Linked DNA regions of Homo sapiens: region 2 is linked to region 1. Evidence: fine-mapped expression QTL. Tissue or cell type: whole blood. Region 1 holds a variant in brackets; the other region holds the start of a gene. All regions are shown on one strand. Distances are between the middles of the regions.

What was found. PIP is the estimated chance that this variant, and not a neighbour inherited with it, causes the effect.
Region 2: it holds the start of LINC02908, and the variant in region 1 is fine-mapped to the expression of LINC02908 in whole blood (TOPMed, PIP above 0.99).

Annotation. Positions count from the first base shown.
Region 1 is chr9:136,944,114-136,952,113 of GRCh38, reverse strand. FBXW5 (F-box and WD repeat domain containing 5) reads left to right here and starts at 7,376. Exons shown (of 9, transcript NM_018998.4): 1 at 7,376-7,520. It overlaps C8G (complement C8 gamma chain), which reads right to left and starts at 6,871. Exons shown (of 7, transcript NM_000606.3): 1 at 6,656-6,871; 2 at 6,344-6,480; 3 at 6,115-6,185; 4 at 5,922-6,029; 5 at 5,548-5,649; 6 at 5,425-5,463; 7 at 5,139-5,346. The coding sequence starts at 6,793. The coding sequence ends at 5,333. It also overlaps a transcript of LCN12 not described here. RefSeq lists silencers at 1,825-2,324, 2,345-2,444, 7,333-7,912. The variant G/A (reference allele first, on the strand shown) is at 4,791.
Region 2 is chr9:137,023,946-137,031,945 of GRCh38, reverse strand. LINC02908 (long intergenic non-protein coding RNA 2908) reads right to left here and starts at 4,482. Exons shown (of 3, transcript NR_171031.1): 1 at 4,035-4,482. ABCA2 (ATP binding cassette subfamily A member 2) reads left to right here and starts at 3,709. Exons shown (of 49, transcript NM_001606.5): 1 at 3,709-3,871; 2 at 7,710-7,803. The coding sequence starts at 3,806. It overlaps FUT7 (fucosyltransferase 7), which reads left to right. Exons shown (of 2, transcript NM_004479.4): 2 at 221-1,772. The coding sequence ends at 1,236. RefSeq lists an enhancer at 2,824-3,568 and a silencer at 3,452-3,631.

The sequences.
Region 1 (8,000 bases):
TGGGTTCCAGCCAGGTGGGGTAGGAGGGGCCCCCAGGTCCACCTTCCACCTCTTCTTCTCATTTCTGAGGCCCTGCCCCCTTCAGCCCCCTTCCAAGTGCCCCATGCTGGGGGTTCAGAGGCCCCACGCAGCCTGCCCCAGCCTTCCTCCCTGTCACAGAATGTTGCGTCCCAGGCAGACAGCGTGACCTGCCGCAGCCATAAGGGACAGGGCCCAGCTGTGGCCAAACCCGGGCATTCCCCCTGCAGGGCCTGGGCCTGCCAGCCGCCCCCCTACCCCCACCCTGCCTGGCTCCACACATGCCTGAACCGCAGCGTGGGCCGTGGCCCTGGAGCAAGAACAGGACCAGGGAGGGGCCCTGTGGCCATGAGGCCGGGGTGGAGGTGGCCCGAGCAGGCGAGGAGGGAGGCTGGGGCCTGCAGAGCACCCAGGCAACCTGGTGAGGACAGCTGGGGCATTTTAAACGCAGTCTCTGCCCAGAGGGAGGGGCAGGGCTGGGAAGCCCCACTAATGGGAGTGGGCACCCCATGCTGGTCCTGCCTAAAAGAAAGGATTAGTAGGCCAGGCACAGAGGCTCATGCCTATAATCCCAGCACTTTGGGGGGCCAAGGTGGGAGGATCTCTCAAGCCCAGGAGTTTGACATCACCCTGGACAACATAGCGAGACTCCATCTCTACAAAAAAATTTAAAAGTTAGCTGGGGGTGGTGGTGCACACCTGTGGTCCCAGCTACTTGAGAGGCTGAGGTGGGAGGATTGCTTTAGCCCAGGAGTTTGAGCCTGCAGTAAGCTATGATTGTGCCACTGGACTCCAGCCTGGGCAAGACTGAGATCTCATCTCTAAAAATATAAAAATAAAATGTAAACAGAGGGCTGGCAGGGAGGGCAATGGCAGGCTTGGGGCTTCTAGCTGCCCTGGCACCCCTTGGACGATGGGGCTAGGGAGTGGAGTCCCCTTCCTGACCTCTCCTCCCATCCTCACAGGTAGCTGAAGCCTCTGGGTGCTGGACTCCATGTTAGGGGTCACCAAGGGTGAGCCAGGTGCCTCCCACTCACCGTGTGCCTGGCCTGTGAGCCTCTGTCCAGGCCCCCCAGGTCCCTGTCCTGGCTGCCCCCTCCCACCCCAGATTCCCTGTCCTGGCCACCTCCTCCCCTCATCCAGCCCTGCTTACAAGGGACTTAGGCTCATCCCAGGAGGTGCCCTGGGCCTCGGCAGCCTGCCCTGGGTGGCAGCCCCAGCCTGGCCACTCGAAGAGCCCAGCCCCCAGGACTTCAGGGCTCCAGGGCTGGGCTCTGTCCCAGGCCTCACTGCCCACGTAGAAGGGCAGCTTGCTGTGCCTTGTCTCACCAGCACAACGCTAGCGTTTCAGGAGGCTGGCCCAGGGAAGGAAAAGTTGGAAATAATCTGTTCATTCCCCTGAACTCCCCAAGGCGCCTTCGACTCTCCACCATCCCCCTGGCCCCAGCCAGCCTAGGAGCGCCTGTCCGCAGCCCCAGGGTCCCGCTCTCAGCGCAGCAGGCACCCCTCCCGGAGCCCGTCTTATCGCAGGGCACTGGGGAGATTTGGGATCACAGCACACAGCCCATGTACAGGACAGTCCCCGCTACGGACCCCGCCCATGCAGGGCCCTGCGGGAGGAAAACCGGGCCTTCCCTGGCCAGCCCGAGACCCACAGAGACTGAGCAGCAGAGGTCGGGTGGGCCGAGTCCTCGACACAGAGGAGGGTCCCTCGGCTCCAAGCAGCGCCTCAGGCCCCATGCTCCCTCCCCCAGACCCACTCCTGCCGCCCTGGGGGGTCTGTGTGTGCCTCCAGGTAGCCACTGGCTGCTGCCGTTAACCTCTGTGCCCCCCACGTCCCCTGCAGGAGCCTCCCGGACACGACAATGGGTTCGGCGCGCCTCCTCCCCCCACCGCGGGGCAGACGCAGGTGCTGCTCCTCCCGTCTAACGTGATTGGTGGAGGGTGGGCACGTGACCTCCGCCGCCCAATCAGGGCCCTGCAGGTGCCTTTGCCTGGCTGGGCCGGCGGCGCTGGAACGGGCCGTGCAGGACGCGGGCCTTGAGGCACCTGCGGGGCTCCCGGGGGAGTCCTGGCTCTGACCTCGGCCTTCCATACCGCCTGGGGTGGGCGGGCCGGGCGCGGCAGCACACGCCAGTGAGCCCAGCGCTTTGGGAGGCCGAGGCGGGAGGCGGTGCCCGGGAGCTTGCGTGCCACGGGGAGGAGCAGCCGCGCCTTCTGCAAGGCGTCCTTGAGAGGCGGGAGGGAAACCGCCGCTTCCACTCAGCACCCTGGACCCCCAGCCCACCGTGGGGACCGGTCCCTGGGGCCTCTCCCATTGACCCCTCCCATCAGGTCCTCTCTTCCCTCTGCTTCGCTCCCCGGCACCCCCACCCCCAACCCATCGCCTTCATCTCGGCCTCCCCACAGCAACAAGGACAGACTTACCCTCCACTGCTCTTCCTCCGTTCCCGGAAAACTCCCGGCCTGTCCTCTGCTCACCCTCCCCTCTCTCTTCCCACTCTCCGGGCAAAGACCTTTTCCCAGACACGGTCCTGGGCGCTGGGAGGCCCCTTGGGGGTGGGGTGGGGGGCCAGGGGTGGTTGGGGCGTGGCTGGGGAGGAGGGTGCCTCGTCCCCACATGGAGGAGTCCTGGCCCACCTGTCCCTCTGAGCACCTGCGTGGGCAGGGAGGACGGGCACGGCACCTGCCTGTCGGCCCTGCCTGTGGGACCAGGGGCTCCCGGGGCCCCACACAGCACTCTCACGTCCAGGCAAGGCGGGGGCACCCAGGACAGTCCTGGACTCCTGACCCCGCAGGTCTTGGGCAAGACTGCTAACAATTAAATGTTAGTTTCTATAGATGAAAAAACTTTTTTTTTAAATAGAGATGAGGTCTCACTATGTTGCCCACCCAGTCAGATCTTGAACTCCTGGCCTCAAGCGATCCTCCTGCCTCAGCCTCTCAAAGTGCTGAGATTAAAGGTGTGAGCCACTGTGCCCAGCCAGTTTGCATAGTTTTGTTGTTGTTTGTTGTTGTTTTTTAAATAAATTGAGACAGAGTCTCGCTCTGTCACCCGGGCTGGAGTGCAATGGCGCGATCTCGGCTCACGGCAACCTCTGTCCCCTGGATTCAAGCGATTCTCCTGCCTGAGCCTCCTGGGTAGCTAGGATTACAGGCGCCCACCACCACGCCTGGCTAATTTTTTTTGTATTTTTAGTAGAGACGGGGTTTCACCATGTTGGCCAGGCTGGTTTCAAACTCCTGACCTCAAGTGATCTGCCCGCCTCAGCCTCCCAAAGTGCTAGAATTACAGGCGTGAGCCACAGCGCCCAGCCATTTCCATAGATTTTTTTTTTTTTTTTTTTTTTGAGACAGAGTCTCACTGTCGCCCAGACTGGAGGCAGTGGCATGATCCCGGGTCACCACAACCTCTGCCTCCTGGGTTCAAGCAATTCTCCTGCCTCAGCCTCTGGAGTAGCTGGGATTACAGGCGCCTGCCACCATGACCAGCTAATTTTTGTATTTTTAGTAGAGACAAGGTTTCACCATGTTGGACAGGCTGGTCTTGAACTCCTGGCCTCAAGTGATCCACCCGCCTCAGCCTCCCAAAGTGCTGGGATTATAGGCGTAAGCCACCACGCCCAGCCAAATTATGCAAACTATTTTAAAGAACAATGATTCACACAGAGCTATCGTGATTTTATGTAGTGTTTGAAATTTAACTAGAGCTCATTCAATGCTTCTGTGAAAATGAAATGCCTTGTAATCCTTGCGCTGCACATCCTCTGGTCCCAGAGCACACAGCCAAGTGGCCACGCACTTCACTCAGTGCGGGAACCCACCCAGCCCTGCAGTCAGAGGCGTGGAGGGTCAGGCTGGGCCACTCTGCCACCAACCACAGCACCCAAGGTCATCGGGTGGGTCTCTGGCGCCACCCCTCGGACATTCAGCCCTCCCTGAAGCTTGTGACCGTGGCCAGCTACCCGACTCCTCCTGCCCCCAGATGAGACCCTCACTTTCTGTTTGGGGGATGTGGGGCCAGGCATGGAGGAGGCTTTCCTGGGGCTCAGGCCTAGAGTCTTCCCGGCGTTGCCAGCTCTGAACCCTGAGCCCTTCTGCTGCGCCCTGCTATCTCATGGGTCTCTGGGACATGGAGCTGGAGTGGGGGAAGGCGATGCAAGGGTACGACCTCCTGGGCCCTTCTCCTTCCCAGGTCCCGGCAGTCAGGGCCCCTGCCTCCCCTTCCCACCACCTGACTTGCCTGCCCTCCTGGGGTCTAGCAGCTTAGTGAACAGGTGGGCACGGCAGGGGGAGCCCCGCCCGTGGGATGGGGACCCCCCTGAAGCAGCTGCTGGCTCCTCCCTGCCCCCACCCAGGCCGTGTGCTTTGGGACCAACTCCAAGGTGCCTTCTCCTCCCATCCCTGCCCACTGTGGCCGATTGGTGGCTGATCCCTGGACTTGTAAGTTCCTAGGGGGAGGGACCAGCCCACCTGGTGGTCCCAGGGCCCAGCACACAGTGGGCCTTCAGAAATGCTTATCAAACAAATGCCAGTGGCCGCAGGCAGGGCCTGAGAGGAGCAGCTTAGCGGCCAGGTCCAGGCCCAGCATGGTCAAGCCATGCCGGGTTCCTGATTCTCCGGCCCTAGCCCAGGGGCTGCCCCGAGGGCAGAGCTGGCCCACCCCCACATTCTCTTCTGCTTCCTGGTTTCACGGGGGACGTGGGAGTGGATGAGGTGTGCAGAGAGTGCAGTGGCTGTGGGTGGACAGCACCAACTGCTGCCACCAACAC[G/A]GGCCAGCTGGTGCCAGCTCGGCTCGGAAGAGGCCAAAATGGGCAGTGACGGGAGACAGCTGGCCTCCCACGGGGGCGGAAGAGCAGCCCGGGGGCTGCAGGACAATGGCCCAGGCAAGAGCAGCCTTGGAGTGAGGCTGGACGCCCCCAGGTCCCAGCAGGGCACAAGATGGGCATATGCCAGAGAGGATCTCCCCTCCCAAATCCCAAGAGCCGCTGAAATCGGCCCAGTGCCCACTGCGTGGACTCCAGCCAACAGGGAGCGCCGGGCTTTTAAAGAGGCGGGGTGGGGGCAGAGAGGGCCTTGGTGGTACTGGCGCCGGTCCAGAGTGGACAGAAGAGTCAGAGAGGGGTCTGAGACATTTAATAAGTAGGTACCACTCCACCCACTGTCCTCTGGGGCAGCCGGCAGAAGATCCCCTGCCCTGGGTGGCAGGGCCCTGATCTGAGGCTGGTTTCACGGAGGACAGGCAGCGGGCACCCCACTGGTGGGGTCGTCTCTCGGGGCACTGACTTCTCAGCACTGGAGCTGTGTGCCGGCCTCACCTCCTCACTTCTGCAGCAGAGACGAGACTCAGCCGGTGGCAGTGGCCCCCCTCACCACGCCGCCATGCTTGCCCCGCTGTGCACTCACCGTCCAGGACGTGGAACTGGTCTGCAGCCTCGCAGAAGCCTGGGGGCCCAAGGCAGGGGTCAGGCTGGACATCAGCCCAGAGAGTGGGGGTGGCTGAGCTGGGGACCTGCTGGGGACACTCACCGTACTTGGGGAAGTAGAAGATCTGGTCCTCAGTCAGGTGGGCCTCCTGGACCCGCTGCTCAAACCCACTCAGGACCGAGTCGCTCACAGGGAGCGAGCGGGCTGCAGGGCAGACAGGGTTCCTGGGGTCCTGGCACCAGGCGGCGTGGAGGGCTCTGGAAACGGGGTCTGTGTGTCCCCTGCCCCCTCGGGGCCCTCTCCCTGCTCCCACACCAGGCCTGTCTGTCACTACTCCCTGGGCCCCTGCTTAGCAGGAGGATCAGGATGGGAGAAAGGAAGTGTGTCCCCATGGGCTCACCCAGCCCCTCGGGGTGGCCCAGTGAGTGTGCAGAGCTTGAGCGCCTGCCTGGTCACAGAGGCTGGCCCCCACATACCGTAGAGCTTCACTGACAGCTGCCCCGCCCGCTCCAGGTACAGGACAGCGAAACTCTGGTAGTCGGTCTCAGCGACAACCACGTGCACAGCCCCTCGGGCGTCTCGGGCTGGGGCAGAGCCACAGTAGCCATGTCAGAGAGCCACAGTGGCTGCGTCATCCCCCACCCACATGCCCTGCAGCCCCTGCCTCACCTTGAAGCAGGAAGCGGCCGAGGACCCCTGTGTCTCCATAGAGCTGGCGCACCTGCCAGCAGATCCCATCCCTGGGGGGGCGGGGAGGAGGCACCACAGGCTGGGAGACCCCAACCAGGAATCCTAGTCCAGGCCACAGCCGGGGTGGGGTCAGGGGCCAGAGCAGGGCTGAAGTCCGGGGGCTGAGAGGAGGGTTGGGGTTAGGGTGCAGGGCTGCTCTGGGACTCACAGCTTTCGGAAGGTACTGACAGCCATGGCTGTGCCCTGGGGAGCCACATGCAGTGTGGTGGCCTCGGCCCGGTGGCCCTGCTCCTGCAGGAAACGGCAAGCGGAGCCCACAGCCACAAGGAGCCAGGTCCCTGCAAACTGGGGGCAGACCATGGGAGAACTCGAGGGCACTGTGGGAGGGCCCCTCACCTGCTTCCCTCTACACCCCCCACAACTTCACCTGCTTCCCTCTCCCCCGCAACAACTTCTACCTGTCTCCCTCTACCCCTCCCACAACTTCTACCTGCCTCCCTCTACCCCCCCCAACTTCTACCTGCTGAGCATCAAAATTGGCCTTGGGCTGGATGGTGCTGATGGGGGATGCGGGCCGGCGTGGCCTCTGAGGCTTCTGGCCCAGCGAGCCAGCTGCCAGGAGCAGAGTCAAGAGGGTCGCAGTCCCAGGGGGCAGCATGGTGGCGGCAGCAGGGTGGCAGGACTGTGGGAGGCCAAGGGTAGCACCACCAAGTCCCAGGACAGAGTCTACTCTGCTGTCACAGAGCCCAGCCCAGGAAGTCCATGTCCATCCGTTGCCTCCCCACCCCCCACCTCCAGCCTCCTCGTGAGCCTAGCTTCGATCTGCACTTCCTGGCAGGGCCCTGGCACCATGTCCTATGTACAAAGTCCGAGTTGACCTCTGGCTGTTTATCCATTTCTCCTGCACCCCTGATTTCCACCGACAGTCCTTAGCCCTTTACACGTTATCTTCCTTAAACCATCACCCAGTGGTCTTATCTCCATGGCCAACGTCACGGGGTTCATGAAGCCACTTGCTCAGGGCCCGGCAACAGGGAGCGCCGGAGGCGGGTCCCGAACCAGCGTTCGTTGAGCCTCGCCTGCAACCCCGCCCACGACCGCCGCCCGCTGGCCACAAGGGGCGCTGTTCCCAATGCGCCCGAGTGCGCGCAGGCGCACAAAGAAAAGCCGGCCAGGCCGCCGGAGCCCAAGGCGCAGGCGCACGAGGGGCGGATGCGGGCTACCCGCGCGCTCTGCCTTCCTCGGCCATCGATGCCTCGGGGCTCGTGGCGTCGGGCCTGGCGGGCTCCCCGTTGGGCGGGGGCGGCGGTCCGAGCGGCTGCGGCAGCGGAAGCGGGTCCGGGTCGCGCAGGGCGGGGGCGGCGCAGCGGGCGGAGGCGGCCGTGGTGAGTGCGCCTGCGGCCCTCGGGGGTCCCGCCTTGTCGTCCCCGCCCGCCTTGGGCGAGTGCAGGAGCCCCGAGGCCGCCCGTGCGCTCGTCCCCGCCGTCCGCCCCGAGCCCGCCGGGCAGAGCTGCTCCAGGGCCGCAGGGCGGAGGCCACTGCCTGGCCGCCCCGAGCTTCCTCTCGGCGGAAGCCCGTCCCCGGACGGCGCCTGGTGTCCCCGTGCCTCGCGTGCGGCGGTCCGGGCCCTGGCGGGCTGAGGGGCGCCCGCTGCCGGCCGCAGGAGGCCGGGGGATGACGCGGCGGAGAGGGGCCGGCCCGGCCCGCCCGGAGCTGCCGGGTCCTTGGTTGGGCGGCGGTACCCGGGCGTCCCCTGCAGACACGCAGCCCCGTGGAACTCCCGGCGGGACGGTTGGGGCTGGAGGAACAGGACGCCCGCTCTCGGCCTCCCTTCCCGGGCCTGGGCTGAGGGCAGCCGTTGGTGG
Region 2 (8,000 bases), 80 kb before region 1:
GGGACAGCTAGGCAACCTGGGAGGGGAGGACGGGGGTGGCGCTGAGTGGGGCATGTCGGTGTCCCTGAGCCCATGGGAGGGGAGGACGGGGGTGGCGCTGAGTGGGGCATGTGGGTGTCCCTGAGCCCATGGGAGGGGAGGACGGGGTTGGCGCTGAGTGGGGCGTGTGGATGTCCCTGAGCCCAAGTGACAGAGCCTCCCCTCCCTCGTGCTGCTGCAGGGCACGGCCCCACCCGGAGGCTGCGAGGCTTGGGGGTCCTGGCCGGGGTGGCTCTGCTCGCTGCCCTCTGGCTCCTGTGGCTGCTGGGGTCAGCCCCTCGGGGTACCCCGGCACCCCAGCCCACGATCACCATCCTTGTCTGGCACTGGCCCTTCACTGACCAGCCCCCAGAGCTGCCCAGCGACACCTGCACCCGCTACGGCATCGCCCGCTGCCACCTGAGTGCCAACCGAAGCCTGCTGGCCAGCGCCGACGCCGTGGTCTTCCACCACCGCGAGCTGCAGACCCGGCGGTCCCACCTGCCCCTGGCCCAGCGGCCGCGAGGGCAGCCCTGGGTGTGGGCCTCCATGGAGTCTCCTAGCCACACCCACGGCCTCAGCCACCTCCGAGGCATCTTCAACTGGGTGCTGAGCTACCGGCGCGACTCGGACATCTTTGTGCCCTATGGCCGCCTGGAGCCCCACTGGGGGCCCTCGCCACCGCTGCCAGCCAAGAGCAGGGTGGCCGCCTGGGTGGTCAGCAACTTCCAGGAGCGGCAGCTGCGTGCCAGGCTGTACCGGCAGCTGGCGCCTCATCTGCGGGTGGATGTCTTTGGCCGTGCCAATGGACGGCCACTGTGCGCCAGCTGCCTGGTGCCCACCGTGGCCCAGTACCGCTTCTACCTGTCCTTTGAGAACTCTCAGCACCGCGACTACATTACGGAGAAATTCTGGCGCAACGCACTGGTGGCTGGCACTGTGCCAGTGGTGCTGGGGCCCCCACGGGCCACCTATGAGGCCTTCGTGCCGGCTGACGCCTTCGTGCATGTGGATGACTTTGGCTCAGCCCGAGAGCTGGCGGCTTTCCTCACTGGCATGAATGAGAGCCGATACCAACGCTTCTTTGCCTGGCGTGACAGGCTCCGCGTGCGACTGTTCACCGACTGGCGGGAACGTTTCTGTGCCATCTGTGACCGCTACCCACACCTACCCCGCAGCCAAGTCTATGAGGACCTTGAGGGTTGGTTTCAGGCCTGAGATCCGCTGGCCGGGGGAGGTGGGTGTGGGTGGAAGGGCTGGGTGTCGAAATCAAACCACCAGGCATCCGGCCCTTACCGGCAAGCAGCGGGCTAACGGGAGGCTGGGCACAGAGGTCAGGAAGCAGGGGTGGGGGGTGCAGGTGGGCACTGGAGCATGCAGAGGAGGTGAGAGTGGGAGGGAGGTAACGGGTGCCTGCTGCGGCAGACGGGAGGGGAAAGGCTGCCGAGGACCCTCCCCACCCTGAACAAATCTTGGGTGGGTGAAGGCCTGGCTGGAAGAGGGTGAAAGGCAGGGCCCTTGGGGCTGGGGGGCACCCCAGCCTGAAGTTTGTGGGGGCCAAACCTGGGACCCCGAGCTTCCTCGGTAGCAGAGGCCCTGTGGTCCCCGAGACACAGGCACGGGTCCCTGCCACGTCCATAGTTCTGAGGTCCCTGTGTGTAGGCTGGGGCGGGGCCCAGGAGACCACGGGGAGCAAACCAGCTTGTTCTGGGCTCAGGGAGGGAGGGCGGTGGACAATAAACATCTGAGCAGTGCCTCGTGGGTCTGGCCAGTGTCTCATGGGTCACCTCCGTGCAGGGCCACAGAGCCTGCATCTGCCCTCCCCTGACATGTCGCCCCCACGGCCATGGGGCTGCTTGTTCCCCACGGGGGGTCCTGTCGCCTGACTTCTGGGCCTTTGCTCACCCTCCGCCTGAGAGCCCTCCCTGTGCCGGGCTGCCCACTGGCTACCCCAGTTCCTACAGCCTCCGCCAGACGGCCCCTTATCAGAGAGCCTTCTGTGTCCCCCAAAAGGCCAAGGCGATGAGCCCAGGAGTTCGAGACCAGCCTGGGCAGTGTAGTGAAATCTCATCTCTACCAAAAATACAAGAATTAGCAGGGCGTGGTGGCTCACGCTTGTGGTCTCAGCTACTTGGGATACTGAGGTGAGAGGATGGCTTGAGCCCAGGAGGTTGAAGCTTCAGTGAGCCGTGATCACACCACAGCACTCCAGCCTGGGCAACAGAATGAGACCCTGTCTCAAAACAAAAACCAAAACAGGCCAAGGTTGGGGAAGAGTAGGGAACGGACGTCAGAGGCCTGGCCAGGCTGAAATCGCCCATCTCCCAGGCCCGCAGGCTGGAGGGTGTCTGGGGTGACAGGGTCTGACCTGTGCCTTGTAGCTCCCTCTGGTGGCCAGTGCTGGGGAGGCACTGGGGATGCGGCTGCAGCCAGGGAGCCCCTGTAGTGGACGGTGGAGAGTGGGGCGAGGAGGAGAGAGGCCAACCCACGGGTGGTGCTGACCAGGGCCCCAACAGGCTAAGCCCCCGGGGCTGGGGCACAGGGCTTGTCCCTACCCCAGGTAGGGGTGGGCAGGTTGAGGGCAGGAAGCCCCCCTCACCCATGGCTGTGGCTTGTGGGAAAGACCTGCTGGTAGCTTCCTGCCCTGACCCAGCCCTGTGGACTGAGCAGAGAAAAGCAAGTGCCTTGAGGCTGCGGGCTGGGGTGGGAAGCTGATCCCTCACTCACTAGCCCAGGGTCACCTTCCTGCTGCAAAGGAGCTGGGAGGAGTGGGGAGCTGTGGCCTCGGAGGTCTTCATTCACTTGAGGATGCGCCTTCTATGTGCGCCCTGACACTGGACACCACACAGCGCTACTCCACCCCATTCACAGGGGGGAAACTGAGTCTGGGAAGCGCCGTCAGAGCCACCCATGGGGTCAGCCTGTCCTCTGTCGCTCTCTACAGGCCACGCGGAGGAACTGCCCCACCTCCCGGGGCGCCCCAGCAGGTGCCAAGCCACAGCCGCAGAACCGCCTGATCCCGAACTCCCTGTGCAGAGACCAGACTCGCCCGAATATGGGGAGAAAAACGAGCCGCGTGCAGCAGGGGCCGCCTCGGTCCCCTGCCTGCTCCGCTCACGGCGAGCGTTCCTGGGGCCTCGAGTTTCCCCCCTTCCGCTGGCTGCTCGGAATCGCGGGACGGACCCACCTGGCCGCCCTGCCTCCCTTCCAGGTGGGCACCACCTGGACTCCAAGTGCTGGTTTACAAAGCACACAGGAGACCCTTACGGGGGTGAGCTGGCCCCTCGCCAGCGTCCGCTCGGCGCGCCCCGGGGACAGTGAAGGCTTGGGGCGCCTCTGCAGAGTCGCCAGCGCGGTGGGCGCAGCCGGATGCCTCTGGGAGAAGAGCGCAGCGCCCGAGGGTCCCCCGGCCTACGAAGGCTAAGCCGGGGTCTCGGATTCGATGTGGGCGCGTCGCGTGACGCCCGGCGAGGGGCGGCCCGGAGGCTTCCCGGCGGCGGCGCGCGCAGGGTCTCGGGCCCGGGTCGGTCCCGGGCGCGGCGCGGGCGGCGGGCGCCTCCTGGCGGGCGCGGACGGAGCGCGGCGCCTTTAAGCGGGGGCGGGCGGGGCGCGGGCAGAGTCGCTGTCGCCGCGGCCGCCGGGGCGGAGCCAGCGCGGATCGGGTCCCGGACGCCCGAGCGCCCCGCCCCCGCGCGGGCGATGCCCAGCGGCGCGGCGGGCTGCGGGGCCCGGCGGGGCGCGCAGAGGAGCGGGCCGCGGCGCTGAGGCGGCGGAGCGTGGCCCCGCCATGGGCTTCCTGCACCAGCTGCAGCTGCTGCTCTGGAAGAACGTGACGCTCAAACGCCGGAGCCCGGTGAGCCCACCCCACGCGCCCGCCCTCAGCCCGAGGCCGCGCGCACCGCGGCCAGAGGCGCGCTCCCCGCGCGCACGTGCGGACGGCCGGGCGCGCGCAGACCCCGGCGGGCGCTGGGGGCGGCGCGGGCCCGAGCCCCCTCCCCGCCGGGCCCTGCCCTCGCCTGCCGGCGCTGCGGCCTCCGGGGAGGTGGCTCGGTCGTGTCCAGTCCGGTCCCGCGTCCGCTGACATCGCGGTGCTCGGCTGAGTCACGGCACCCGCGCCCTCTGCAGCGCGCTCGCTGGGGCCGCTGTGGGCGGGGGGCAAGCGGCGCTCAGGACTCTGGCTCGAGGGAGGCCCTGGTTCCCAGGACAGAAGGCAGGCCTGGGGGGCTCCATTCAGCTGCGAGGCTCCATGGTCCTTGGGCCCAGCCTCCCTGGGGTCCCGGAGGAGACCCTGTCCCTTCCCTCCGTCCACCCCTCCCCTGCCCTTGGGCCGCGGCCTGCCATAGAGGTTGGTCCCAGGCATCTCTCCGCCTCCCCTCCTGGCACATCCGTGACCCTTGCTCATGCTCTCGCCACTGGGAATGTCCTTGTGCCAGCCTTGGCCAGCCTGAATCTCTGCACCCATTTGTCCTTTGGGGTCAGTTCTCCCCGAGCCTGATCCACTCTGTTGCCTCCTGGTCCCCCCACCTGCTCTGGGGGCTGGGTCTACTGTTTGGAGCTGTGAACCCCGGCTTTCCCAGCACTGCCTGGGCAGCCAGTGGACCTGAGGGTGCAGGACACATGGCTGTCAGGGACAGAAGTCCTTCGTGGAGCGAGGGGCTTGGGGATATGGGTGTCCTGCCATACCCCCAGCTGGCCAGCTTGGCTCCAGCCTGGGAAGGGAAGGGACACCTCCCAGGCCACAGGCCTGGACCAGCTTAGGTTTCTGAAGGCCCTTGGGATTGTCCAGGCCAGGGCTCAGAGCAGGTGGGGGCCTAAGGCAGACATCCTCTTGCCCAGCCAGGGCCCGGGCGGGACCCCTTGGGCTGCACCAGTCCGTGCCTGTTTATCTTTCAACATGCACTGCAGGAAACCCAGGCTGCAGTCAGCTGGGGTGGCCATCATCACCATGGCTGGCAGAATTCCCCTGGGCACCTGGCCTTGGCGGGGAGCCTGGGTTAGGTACATGCCCTGGCCAGGCACCTGGAGCTGGCTGAGTGGGGTCCCATGGATCAGGCCTGCAGCCCCTGGCATTGAGTCACTGGGGACAGCAGAGCAGGGCCAAGGGAACAGGGATGTGGCATGTGGCATGCATTAGTATTAGTCCCCGGGGGTGGTTGTCAGGAAGGTCCCCACTGGGCTTGGGAGCAGAGGCTGGAATGGTGGCCCCTGTTCCAGTGGGGACAATGCTCAGGGAAGGGAGTGTGGCCTATGAGGGCAGCTGGCAAGCAGGTGGGAGGTGTGCACTGTCCTGACCGCAAGAGTGACTCCCAGCTGCTGGTTTGGGCTGCCCCCCAGGACCTTTTTGGGTCCCCACCCTACAGGGCTCCCAGAGGCCCACTGGGCCACAGTGGAGGTCCTTAGCCCATGGCTGGAGCAGGTGGGGAACTGTTTCCCCCAGGGAGGCTGAGTCCTTGCCAGGCTTGTGATGTGGGGCTGGGGCTGGCTGGACACTGGGCACACTCCTGCTGGGTCCCCACTTTCCTGGGAAGGATCTTGGACATCAGAGCTGGACTCTTGGGGCCAAGCTTGGATGACAGAGGTTTGCCCTGTGTGCCATGCGCCCTGCTGGGGCAGGGGTGCACCCTGGGCAGAGCTCCACCCTGGGCAGAGCTCAGGGTCTGGAGGGTGGGTGCCAAGGACCTCTGTGCTGCTAGCAGGCTCCTCCAAGCTCTTTGCCTCAGTTTCCCTGTCTGTGAGTGTGGCCTATCTCCTCTTAGTTAGCTGGACTTGGGTCTACCCTTGGGCTACAGGCTGCTCTTGGTGCAGGGACAGGGTCACTGTCATGAAGTCACTGGGATGGCAGATGGCAGCGCCACCCTCGGGTCTCACCTGTTCTCCCCCCGACACAGTAGGCGGGAGCTACAGGGAGGGGTCATGCCCAGAGAAGGCATCTAGGCCTCCAGGCGATGTGAAGGCACTGGGCTGGTCTCGAGGGACGGAGGTTGGGCCACCTGGAGGCACCTGTGTGGGGCACCCAGGGCGTGCTAGACCTGTGCTGCCGCCTGTAACCAGATGCTGCTGTGGCGCCCGCCGCCTGCCAGCCAGGACTCTCCTCCTCCTCCCAGTAGCTCGTGCGAGGCCGTTGCTATAGCAATGGGGGAGGCAGCCGGGCCTGTTGCTGCAGTTACAGTGCCCATAGCAGGCCGGGTGTGGGCGGGGCTGGCGCCCCGTGCTGTGACCCCTGCCTCTGACATTGCCTCACTCCTGCAGCCACCCTCGCCCTGGTGCCTGTTGGTGCCCACAGTGCCTTGGCGAACCCTGGGCTCCGTCCTGGCTCAGGGAGCGGGTGGAGGCTGGCACGGGCTGGGGCGGGCATGGGACACCCACAGCATGATGTTCCTGGCCACAAAGCCCTATTGTCCAAGCACAGTAAACACAGCAGCCGCCCCCACCCCAGGGACCGGGGACTCGGCCCGGGCCACACAGCACACTGGGGGCTCTGAAGGGTTTTGGGATGGGGATGAGGACAAAGGATGCCTCCGAGCTGGGTGCTCGCCCTCGGGCTAGGGAGGGCAGGGCCCCTCTGTCCTGTGGGTCTCAGAGAGGGCTGGTCTGCCGAGGGCTCTCTGGAGGGTAGCTGGCTCAAGCTCCTCCTCCTCCCTGAGCTGGGGGCTGGGACACAAGAACCGGTAAAGTCCTTGGTTTTCAGGTGAAGTGAGCAAAGCACCTCTTTCTCACTCCACGCAGGTCCCACTAGGGCTCACCTTGGTGCCCAGCCTGGGTTAGCAGGAGCCGACCTGGGGAAACTGAGCTCCAAGGCCCAAGACTGGCTGCCCCGGGTCAGGAGAGGGGACAGGGCAGAAAGAGGTGCCTTTGGGCCAGGTGTGGTGGCTCACGCCCAGGTGGGCGGATCACGAGGTCAGGAGATCGACACCATCCTGGCTAACACGGTGAAACCCCGTCTCTACTAAAAATACAAAAAATTAGCTGGGCATGGTGGCGGGCGCCTGTAGTCCCAGCTACTCGAGAGGCTGAGGCAAGAGAATGGTGTGAACTTGGGGGACGGAGCTTGCAGTGAGCTGAGATCGCACCACTGTGCTCCAGCCTGGGTGACAGAGTGAGACTCCGTCTCAAAAAAAAAAAAAAAAAAAGGTGCCTTTGCTTCAGGGACTGGGGCTGTTAGACCCCTTACCAGGTCTTCTCCGAGGCTCAGGGCCCTGGGCGCAGGCCAAGCCTCTCAACCAGGCCTCCTCATCTCCCCAGGCCCCGGTATTGGTGGGGAGGAAGTGGGAGGAAGGTGAACCCGGGGCAGTGTGGGAAGTGTAGGCGGGGCTAGTGGCTCAGATGGTCCCCAAGATTTTGCCCAGGTAGCCCTGGAGGTGGGGAGGGAGAAGATGAGCTGGGATATACATGGGTCAGAGTAGACCACAAGCTGGCCGATTTGTCCCTGTAGGCCCTGAGGCTCCTCAGAGGGCACGTAGGCCCAGTGTGGGCTGGGGACGGGAAACCTGATTTGCTGAGCCAGACAATCCTTACCCTCAGTGCCCTGGAAGGGGCTCAGACCTTCAGTGGTTCCGAAGGGCCTGTGCCCACCTTCCCTGGCCCCAGGGAGCACGTGGTCCTGTCTGGGCTGGGCCAGCCCTATGGGAGGCTGGGGAGGGCCTAGGCGAGCACAGGTCTGTCCTATCCCTCACTGGGCCCACCCTTTCCAGTGGGTCCTGGCCTTCGAGATCTTCATCCCCCTGGTGCTGTTCTTTATCCTGCTGGGGCTGCGACAGAAGAAGCCCACCATCTCCGTGAAGGAAGGTGAGTGCGGCAGGAGGCCCCAGGCACAGCCGGGGGAGCGCGGCACCTCGCACGCCTGCGCTGTGTGTGCACATCTGCACACGGGTGTCCTGCTCCCGGAGTCCCTGAGGTGCGGTGCCTGCTCCCCTGTGTGGTCCTGGGCCGTGCCTCCTGGCTGGGCTGTGGAGGTCGGGGCTGGCCTGTGGCCGCGAATGATG